Linked DNA regions of Homo sapiens: all the other regions are reported to be linked to region 1. The links are microRNA targets in miRTarBase. Many come from high-throughput screens and were not tested one by one. Region 1 holds a microRNA gene; each other region holds the end of a gene's coding sequence.

The links. The annotated mature microRNA hsa-miR-4709-3p reads UUGAAGAGGAGGUGCUCUGUAGC and lies in region 1 at 891-913, opposite strand. An mRNA with a match to its seed (bases 2 to 7 or 8) in the 3' UTR can be bound and repressed. Matches are read on the target gene's strand: a 7mer-m8 pairs with bases 2 to 8, a 7mer-A1 pairs with bases 2 to 7 and ends in A, and an 8mer does both.
Region 2: miRTarBase lists POLE3 as a target of hsa-miR-4709-3p. Seed matches in the 3' UTR shown: 7mer-m8 at 821-827 and 7mer-A1 at 1,145-1,151.
Region 3: miRTarBase lists PHLDB2 as a target of hsa-miR-4709-3p. Seed matches in the 3' UTR shown: 7mer-m8 at 1,929-1,935.

Annotation. Positions count from the first base shown.
Region 1 is chr14:74,479,245-74,482,482 of GRCh38, forward strand. It overlaps MIR4709 (microRNA 4709), which reads right to left and starts at 960; the gene lies at 889-960. NPC2 (NPC intracellular cholesterol transporter 2) reads right to left here. Exons shown (of 5, transcript NM_006432.5): 4 at 1,458-1,535; 5 at 696-1,044. The coding sequence ends at 1,030. It also overlaps a transcript of SYNDIG1L not described here.
Region 2 is chr9:113,406,092-113,409,091 of GRCh38, reverse strand. It overlaps POLE3 (DNA polymerase epsilon 3, accessory subunit), which reads left to right. Exons shown (of 5, transcript NM_017443.5): 5 at 109-1,857. The coding sequence ends at 281. Among named protein-coding and RNA genes, the nearest start is that of POLE3, 3.1 kb to the left of the region's middle.
Region 3 is chr3:111,974,216-111,977,215 of GRCh38, forward strand. It overlaps PHLDB2 (pleckstrin homology like domain family B member 2), which reads left to right. Exons shown (of 18, transcript NM_001134438.2): 18 at 208-2,302. The coding sequence ends at 348. Among named protein-coding and RNA genes, the nearest start is that of ABHD10, 3.3 kb to the right of the region's middle.

The DNA of each region.
Region 1 (3,238 bases):
ACAGACCAAAGAAATCCAAGGGTCTAGTGAAATTAGTGGGATGAAAAGAACTGGATCAAATCAATCACTTGCTCACAAGCACTTTGTATGAATGTTCCTTCCTTTTGCCCTAACAATGGATGACCTAAGGTCCATGTTATTCAACTCAATTGTGAATGGGGTTGTAATCCCTGTACCACCTAAGAGCTGACTGCTAGTATACTGACTCAAAATAGGTGGCAAAATATATGCCCATGATTATACTTGTACTTTAAGATAGGAAACTCCAAGATTTAATTAATTTAGCCATTACTTGCTACAACTTCACATTTCATTTTTAAGCTTCTAGGCTTTCTTCACAGCAGTGTTCCCAAAAGATCACCATGCCTCATCCTAACCTGTAATCCCTAACCCCTACCTGCCCTCCCCACCAAATTCAGTTCCTTCAACCTTTCAGGCGTTATTATTCAACTAGGTGATTTTTACTTTCACTGCTTCTTTCGAGCATGCTTGGTGGTATAAGATTGTGTCAAATAAAGCAAAACAAGGCCATTTTATATAAAATAGATATGGTCTTACTGGACAAAAAGGAGGAAAAAGAGTTTCTGAAAAAGTCATGTCTTCAGTGCACTCTGGGACCACGGAACTGGGGGCCTGCCTTCCATGGTTCTAGCAGAATGTACCCTGAAAGGAGCAGGAGAAGACCACAGCCCACATGCAGAAGACAAGACAAACGAGTTTTTATTTATTCAAGAGTAAATTTCCAGGTGTAGAAAGAGGCCACAAGTTAATGTTGTTAAAAAAAAAATTAAACATCTGCTAACCAAGTGCTGCATTTAATGAAACCACCTAAGACAGAAAAAGAGACATGAGACAACCACTGAGAACCAGCCACCCGGAGCTCAGTTTCTGCTACAGAGCACCTCCTCTTCAACGAATCACTGGATACCATTGGAGAGCAAGTCACTGTTGTTGAAGCAGCAGAGCTGGAGGTGCTGTCAAGAGTCTCAGCAGACTCATTGGCCAGATGCACCGAACTCAATGAGGCACTTAGAGATGAGAAACCTGTGGATGTAATGTCCCAGCTCAGTGGAAGTGGTTTGGAACCTTTCCTCCACTGTCAGGGCAATAACCCTAGGGCAAGTTATCAGACATTCCTAAGCAACCTCCTTCAGGTCCTGTCTGGCTGGACCTTCCTTACTCCGACAGAAAAAAACCAATGAAGACAGTTAAATCAATCTCTACAGTCTCACTCTCTCTTCTTTCCTTCAACCTTTTTTTTTTTTAACAAAGGATATTACAAAGGCAACAGTTCTGAGCTCTCAGGAAATAGGGTCTCAGATGCTTTTAGAGGTTGAGAGGCATAAAACAGCAGTCTTGAAATTCCTTTTATCTTATGGCACTGATTTAGTTTCAGTCTGATTTCTCCTCCACTTTCTTCCCTCCACCCATGCCCTCTCACCCCCAGATAGACTTACGATCTGTACTGGGATTTCCCAGCAGAAGAGACTTTGGTTTTTGTCATCCTGAAGTTGCCACTCCACCACCAGTTTTATCTGGAGAAAGAGAAAAATAATTGAGAAAAATGAAAATAGGACCTGACTTCTATCCATAATTGGTTTAACTATGAATCCTAGATGTACAGTAGCAAACTTCCTAACTCCTCATACTTTTTTTCTTAAATCATGAGGGCTGCTTAGCATGTGGGCACAGCTTACAGCCTTAAGAGAGTGAACAAAGTTATACTTGTGATTTGATGCTAGCAGCACCACATACTAACTTGGTTAATTTATCAAATGTAATTTCTAAAGCATTCTCTTCTCTCTTAGATCAATGGCATATAAATGAAGTGATACGGTTTGGTTATTTGTCCCTTTGAAATTTCATGTTGACATGTGACCTCCAATGTTGGAGGTGGGCCTGGTGGGAAGTATTGGATCATGGAGGAAGATCCCTCATGAACGGCTTAGCACCGTCCCCTTGGTGATGAGTGAGTTCTCACTGACTTCACATGAGATCTGGCTGTTTAAAAGAGTCTGGGGCCTCCCCCTTCTCTTTCTTGCTTTAGTGCTGGCCATGTGACACGCTGGCTCCCCTTTGCCTTCTGTCCTAACAGTAAGCTTCCTGAAGCCTCACCAGAAGCAGGTGGTGGCACTATGCTTCAGGTACAGCTTGCTGAACCGTGAGCTGATCAAACCTCTTTTCAAGTTACCCAGTCTTAGGTATTCCTTTACAACAAGGCAAATGGACTAACACATGAAGGCTTACATGAATAATTTCACATTTAAGCAATTTCTCATGTATTTGGCAATCTGATCCAGCTTTTTCCCAATGTAACCATGAAGAGCAGAGAGTAAAAAAAATTTAGATTCTTAGGTATAAGGAAACGTTCTTGTTAGCTAGAAATGGAAATGTCAAAGCACAAAAGATGGCCTAGAGAAGTCTGTAGCTGTATGAATAATTTCAAGGATGACAACCTTTTGTAGCAATATACTTTCAGTTAACGCCCTTAAACTGCTTTCTAATAATGTACTTCATCAGAAATCCCTGCCTTGACTTGTTACACTCATATCACGTGAGTGGTCCCTTCCAATTCTTGATAACTCACTGACACTCTGCAGGTCCTTTCTTATGTGGACATTAGCTTACTTGTCACTAGTTACTACCTCTCTTTTGTACTCTAATGTTTCTTCACAATGGAACATGTGAGTGGCACTGATATTCAGGTTCTTGAAACTTGCCTTGTGAGTTTTTCCAGACTAGTATACATTAACTACTGCTTCATTTAGTGCTTAAGCAGTTTGAGCTATTTTTCAAATTAAATGTAACTCATTTAACAGACAATAACTACCATACATTAAGTACCTACTACGTATCAGGCTCTGACTAGTCACTGCATACGTAACTGAGGTTCAGACATGCCCATGGTTATGTGGATATTCATCTACTAATCTGTCCCTGACCTCTAAGGTCTCCAACAGCCCTTAAGCACAGACATCCTATATTTGAGTCTCTTTAGAATGTTCTTTAATTACTTACCTTTCCTAGAAAATAAATGGCCAGATATTGCTCCTGAGTTCTACTTGATTTCAAGAAATGCGGCTCTTTTTCTTCATGGAAAAAGGCCATCCCTCTATTTCCTCCATTCTTATCAAGATACATATCTTTAATACAGGTCCACTGCAGCAGGATCTACCTTATGAGTGCTTGGTAGAAAAAGAGGTAGGTGCAGCAGGGATGGGTCAGAGGTGAAGGTGGG
Region 2 (3,000 bases), not on the chromosome of region 1:
CCGCGCCCATCTGCCTCCGTTTTTCCAATTGTACAATGTAATTAGCTCCTGCAGTCCGTCTGGCTCACTTTCAGCTCTGTCTCCTAACCCCTTGTTCCGTCCTTACAGCATATAGGCGGGAGCAGAAAGGCAAGAAGGAGGCCTCAGAGCAAAAGAAGAAGGACAAAGACAAAAAAACAGACTCGGAAGAGCAAGACAAGAGCAGGGATGAGGACAATGATGAAGACGAAGAAAGGCTGGAAGAAGAAGAACAGAATGAAGAGGAAGAAGTAGACAACTGAAAAGGGCGGGAGACTGTGGCACCTTGGAAGGTACCACTTGAAATGAGACGTGCTACGTGTTTCTGTGAAGCTTTTCCATGCTGGGCAGAGTAGTCTCAGGCAAAAGTGCCTGAAAAGATCAGAATAAAAACTGACTAGAAATACCGTCAAAACCAGCACTTACCAAACTCAGAGCATCTGAGTAGCAGAATCCTGTTTTGCTTCATCAATCTGAAGGTTATGGCCTTTTGACAAGAGGGATTCTGAACGACTAAATTAGTCAGTTTGCTCGCTTTTGTTTACTTAAATGTATGGTTAGATGGTTTTTGATCTGCAGTCTTCCCTAGTCCCCCAAATAAGTAATAATAACTTCCATGCTGCCTGCTGTGTTCCAGATCACAGAGGCAGCCAAGGCTCAGGAAAAACTGGGGCTTTGCTTATGGTCAGCCTATGTTTGATTGCACAGTCTTTGACAATAGTAGCTTACTAAGACTGCTCAGAATGAGTAAGCTTTAGGAAACTACTAAAATGCTGTGGGAGAATAACAAAATCCGTTCTCTCTCTTCACTTGACAGAAGCATTAACTGAATTTTGTTTTTCATAGACCCACTTGGCCCAAAACCTTTCTATATTGCCTGTAGATGATCGGCCTGCTGGTGTGGTAGTAATCTGATCACAGATATTCTTAAATCAGCAGTGTGGAATGGTATTAGTCAAACATGGTGCCAGTGTCTTTTACAAAAACAGATGGCATAGTGTCAGATGTACCTTACTCTCTGCTACTGTACAGCTTTAGGATTTGTCATCACCTCCCGGAAGGTGTAAAACCCCAGGCTTCCTCTTCTTGTAGTCCATCTCCCAGACTTGTGACTATGGCTTTTCATTCTTCAATTCATGACGAGTGCCAAACTTGATTTTCTCTAGGCACAGCTTTCTCCCTCTGTGCCTCCTGCTTCCTTTCTCTCTCCTGCCTCTCCTCTGCTCCCCATCCCACTTTCTCATCTGCCTCCTTTTCTCACTTCTGTCAGTCTGTAAGCTTTGATAACCTGCTTAATACTCCAAAGTGTGAGTTCCTCTGATCTCTTGATTCCTTAGTTCTAATCTCACGTTTTGTTTTTAAGAGATGGAGTCTCTCACTCTGTGGCCCAGGCTGGAGTGCAGTGGCATGATCATAGCTCATTGCATCCTTGAAATCCTGGGCTCAGGTGATCCTCCCGCCTGAGCCTCCTGAGTATCTGGGACTACAGATGCGTGCCACCAAGCCTGGCTAATTTTGTCTCATGTCTTCTAAAAATTATTTTGTGAAGCCCCTTCACAAAAAACCTTAAGGGAAATCTGATGGTGCTCAGGAATCTAACTCTCCCTAAACCATCCTCTTTAACTGCTTCTAAAATATCTCTGTTGGCCTTTCTTAGCCTTTTTCTGTTTCCATTCAGTGCTCCAAGCGCTTTTTGTTTCTAAGTTGAGTGCTTGGGGTTTGACAGGTAGTGACGTGTAGTTTGACACTGTTAACTTGTTAAATACAGTGAAAAGTTTGTGAGTGAAGAATGCTGAGAAGATTGTAATGCTTTGTACAAATAAAAGTCTTGTTAAAAAATGATGCCTCCTGTTTCATGCTGCTTGTTCACAGTGTGTTTTTGGAGAGAGCCCCTGATGATACTCTCCATGCAGTTTTTGGCGTGTGGTCCTGGCCAGACCTTTGTAAACATGAGATACTGCATCGCCTTGGATGACCAGCAGGTGCTGCTCATTCACAGGCAAGGGCTCTGAACTACTGCAAGAGCATTTGTTTTGTTTTGTTTTGTTTTTTTTGAGACAGAGTCTCAATCTGTCGCCCAGGCTGGAGTGCAGTGGCATGATCTCGGCTCACTGCAACCTCCGCCTCCCAGGTTCAAGCAATTCTCCTGCCTCAGCCTCCCAGGTAGCTGGGATTACAGGCACCCACCACCATGCCCAGCTAATTTTTATATTTTTAGTGGAGACAGGGTTTCACCATGTTGGCTAGGCTAGTCTGAAACTCCTGACCTCAGGTGATCCACCCACCTCAGCCTCCCAAAGTGCTGGGATTACAGGCGTGAGCCAACACACCTGCTGAAAGAGCTTTTTTTTTTTGTAGACGGAGCCTCACTCTGTCTCCCAGGCTGGAGTGCAGTGGCATGATCACGGCTCACTGCAAGCTCTGCCTCCAGGGTTCACGCCATTCTCCTGCCTCAGCCTCCCTAGTAGCTGGGACTACAGGCACTCGCCACCATGCCTGGCTAATTTTGTTTTTGTATTTTTAGTAGAGATGGGGTTTCACTGTGTTAGCCAGGATGGTTTCGATCTCCTGACCTCATGATTCGCCTGCCTCGGCCTCCGAAAGTGCTGGGATTACAGGGGTGAGCCACCATGCCTGGCCGGTGCAAGAGCTTTTCATGGATGTGCTGGGCACCCTTATACATACTAGATTCTCAGCAGCTTCATTTATTGAGCCCCCTACTGTGTCTGGCACTAACTGCTTTCAAGTATTAACCCTTTTTTATTTTTATTTATTTATTTTTTGAGACAGAGTCTCACTCTGTCACCAGGCTGGAGTGCAGTGGCACAATCTCGGCTCTCTACAACCTCCACCTCCCTGGTTCAAGTGATTCTCCTGCCTCAGCCTCCCAAGTAGCTGGGACTACAGCCGCGCACGCCACCACACCCAGCTAATTTTTGTATTTTTAGTGGAGATGGGGTTTCACTATGTTGACCAGGATGG
Region 3 (3,000 bases), not on the chromosome of region 1:
GAGTTCTGTCTGAGATTTCCTGTTCAGAAAAATGGTCAATCCTGAAAAAGGCTCTGGGACAGGTGTGTGAGTTATAGTAGAGCAAAAGTAACGCCTTTGTAAATTTAATAAATTGAAAATTTTGAAGAAGTCATCACATGTCTGTGTTATTTAATGTTGTATTTTAAGATGTTTATTTTACATTCTTTTTCCTTTTTTGAATTTTAGAGTCCTAATCCGTTACTCACCTTTAGCGTCAAGACTCATGACAGAATCTATTATATGGTAGCCCCATCGCCAGAAGCCATGCGGATCTGGATGGATGTTATAGTTACGGGGGCAGAAGGTTACACTCACTTCTTGTTGTAGTGAACTGAGGCAACAGTCCACTTCAGGGCAGACGGCAATAATCTCTTACAAGAATGAAGCCATATTCAACCCCAGATGAGAAAACCCAACAGATCCATCCCTTGAGCTGTAAACACTCAGAACTCCTTTCATATCAAGACAAGTTATTTGTAAAAAATAAAGAAGGGGTTTTAATACAAACCTTCATAATAAATAGCAAAATAATTGAAGCTTCCATGAGAAAGAAAACACTATTTTGATAAATTGGATCACTTATAGGAACATTTCTAATAAACTGTTTTTAATCAGTTGTCGGATTTGGTGAAATAAACTAAACAGGTTACAGAATATCTGTATGTACTTGGAAATACAGAATAACTTTATCACCCAAATCACTGGCATTGACATTATTGGTAATCAACTGGCTTTTTTTAAAAAAGGTAGCATTTTGTTGACAGTTATTTTGTAAACATAAGCAAATAAGGGCTTGGAGGGAAATACATTTTAGGAGGAGTTTTGCCTTAATTTTTTAAGTACTGCACCAAAACCAAAGAGCTGACCTGACTTCTGTGGAACAGTAGTAACTGCAAGTGATGAACTGCATTTCGTATTGTTCTGTATATTTCAAAATGGTATTTTGATGCCATCAAATGCCCAGGAAATTGACTTTGCAGTGTCACCACTGGTGTAAGCTACTATATATGTATATATATATGTAGTAAACCACTTTTTGTAAAAGAAGAAAGAGCAAAAAGCTGTGTGTTTTAGAAAAAAAAGCCAGGTTACGCAACAGGCATTCTGTCATGTTGAACAATTTTAAATAAAGAGAATATCTGGTGTTAGGAGCTTGTTTTGCTGAAGATTTCTCCATTCCTGGTGCTGAGAATAAAGGCAACCAGTAGCCAATGTCCTTTAGATTGTCTGATTTCTTTTTGTTGTGGAGCACACCTGCTAACTGCTCCCTCAACATAACTATGAAATCATAGCTCTGTTTTCACCAAAGAACAGACCAATTAACATACTTATTTGCAGAAGTGGTGTAGTTCTATAAAACGGCAAATGAAGTTCAACTTAATATTCTCTATAATGTATTATTTTATTTTATTTTTTACAATTAGCCTTTTTTTTAGTTAATTTTTGTCAAATGAAACGACTTCAGGCAAGTCTCTTTTATAATGGTTTTTCAAGTGCCATTTATTCTAGTTTATCATGTTTTGCATGTTTGAAAGTATGAATGTGCTCTTTCCTAAAACATGGCAAATGAATAGATGTAGAGAATAACAATATTACTTACAAGATGAAATGATTAGATTAGAAGTGTCCCTTTATTAAACTTTGTCAGCCTGACTGGGTACAATTCTTTTGTTAATTTGCAGTGTGGTTTGTATACACGTATACGTGTTATCAATAATAAGATTTTGCAACTGGATGACACAAGATTTTACTTGAACAGTGAAGGACAAAAATCATGATTGTGGAAGATATTTTTAAAATCTGATTTTGCAGCGATCACTTTTAAACCCTGTAGTGATGTAAGACTAAAATATAATTGCTAAGATTTTGTTGGTTAATGTAAAGATATGACTTTTCTGCACTGTACTCTCTTCATAGGATTGTAAAGGTGTTCTAATCCAATTGCATGATGTAGTAAGCCTCTTAAATATGTGTGTTAAATATATTGAGTTTGGATTAAAATGTTGACATGATTTCACATTTGAAAATAAACTCATCTCTTATTTTGAAGTTACCTATCTGTAGTATGATGGAGGATGAATTAATCGCAAATGACAGTTGTAGAAACTATGTAAAGTTTGTTGTGTGCTAACATTATGATTTGTAGTGTATAAACTGAAGTATTCCAATAGAAGTATCTCTGGTTACATCCTATTGCTTACAAAATGAAATGAACCCTGAAAAACTCTGACATCATATTGTTGTCTGTTTACACAGATACATTTATTGCTGGGGATTGCAAGGAGTGTGTTTACTTATCCTTATCTTACACGAAAAAAAAATCATGTAAATGTGATATAAAGCTTTATTTGGTGGGGCATCTCATTTGTCCCCCTGAACTAAGGCAGCAGATTTCAGAGAGAGAAGCTTCCCTCAGCAGTATGTCCCTTTGCCCCCTTTATATATTGATGAAGTCAACATTGACAATAGGTACCCAGAGTGGAAACAAATTTGTCTACTTCAAGCTCATCACTGTCCGTAAAAGCATCTGTACTTGCTACTGGCCATAATTTTTTCTAATTTGTTAGACAACAAGAGTGAATACAGAAAACAATCCATGGGTTTCTCTGCTTTTCTGTGCAGTGATTTTCCCACTATGACCAGTCAGATTTTTCATCTTACTGCAAGTAAAATGCAAGAAGACTTGCAAAAATAAAGGGGAAGAAAAGGGAGAGAAGTGATTGAGAATATTTGCAATTATCCAAAACATGCAGAGAGAAGTGTTTGTTAAGATATAAGGGATGGGCCAGGTGCGGTGGCTCACACCTGTAATTCCAGCACTTTGGGAAGCCAAGGGGGGTGGATCACCTGCAGTCAGGAGTTCGAGACCAGCCTGGCCAACATGGTGAAACCCCATCTCTACTAAAAATACAAAAATTAACCAGGCATGGTGGTCGGTGCCTGTAATCCCAGCTATTCAGGAGGCTGAAGCAGGAGAAT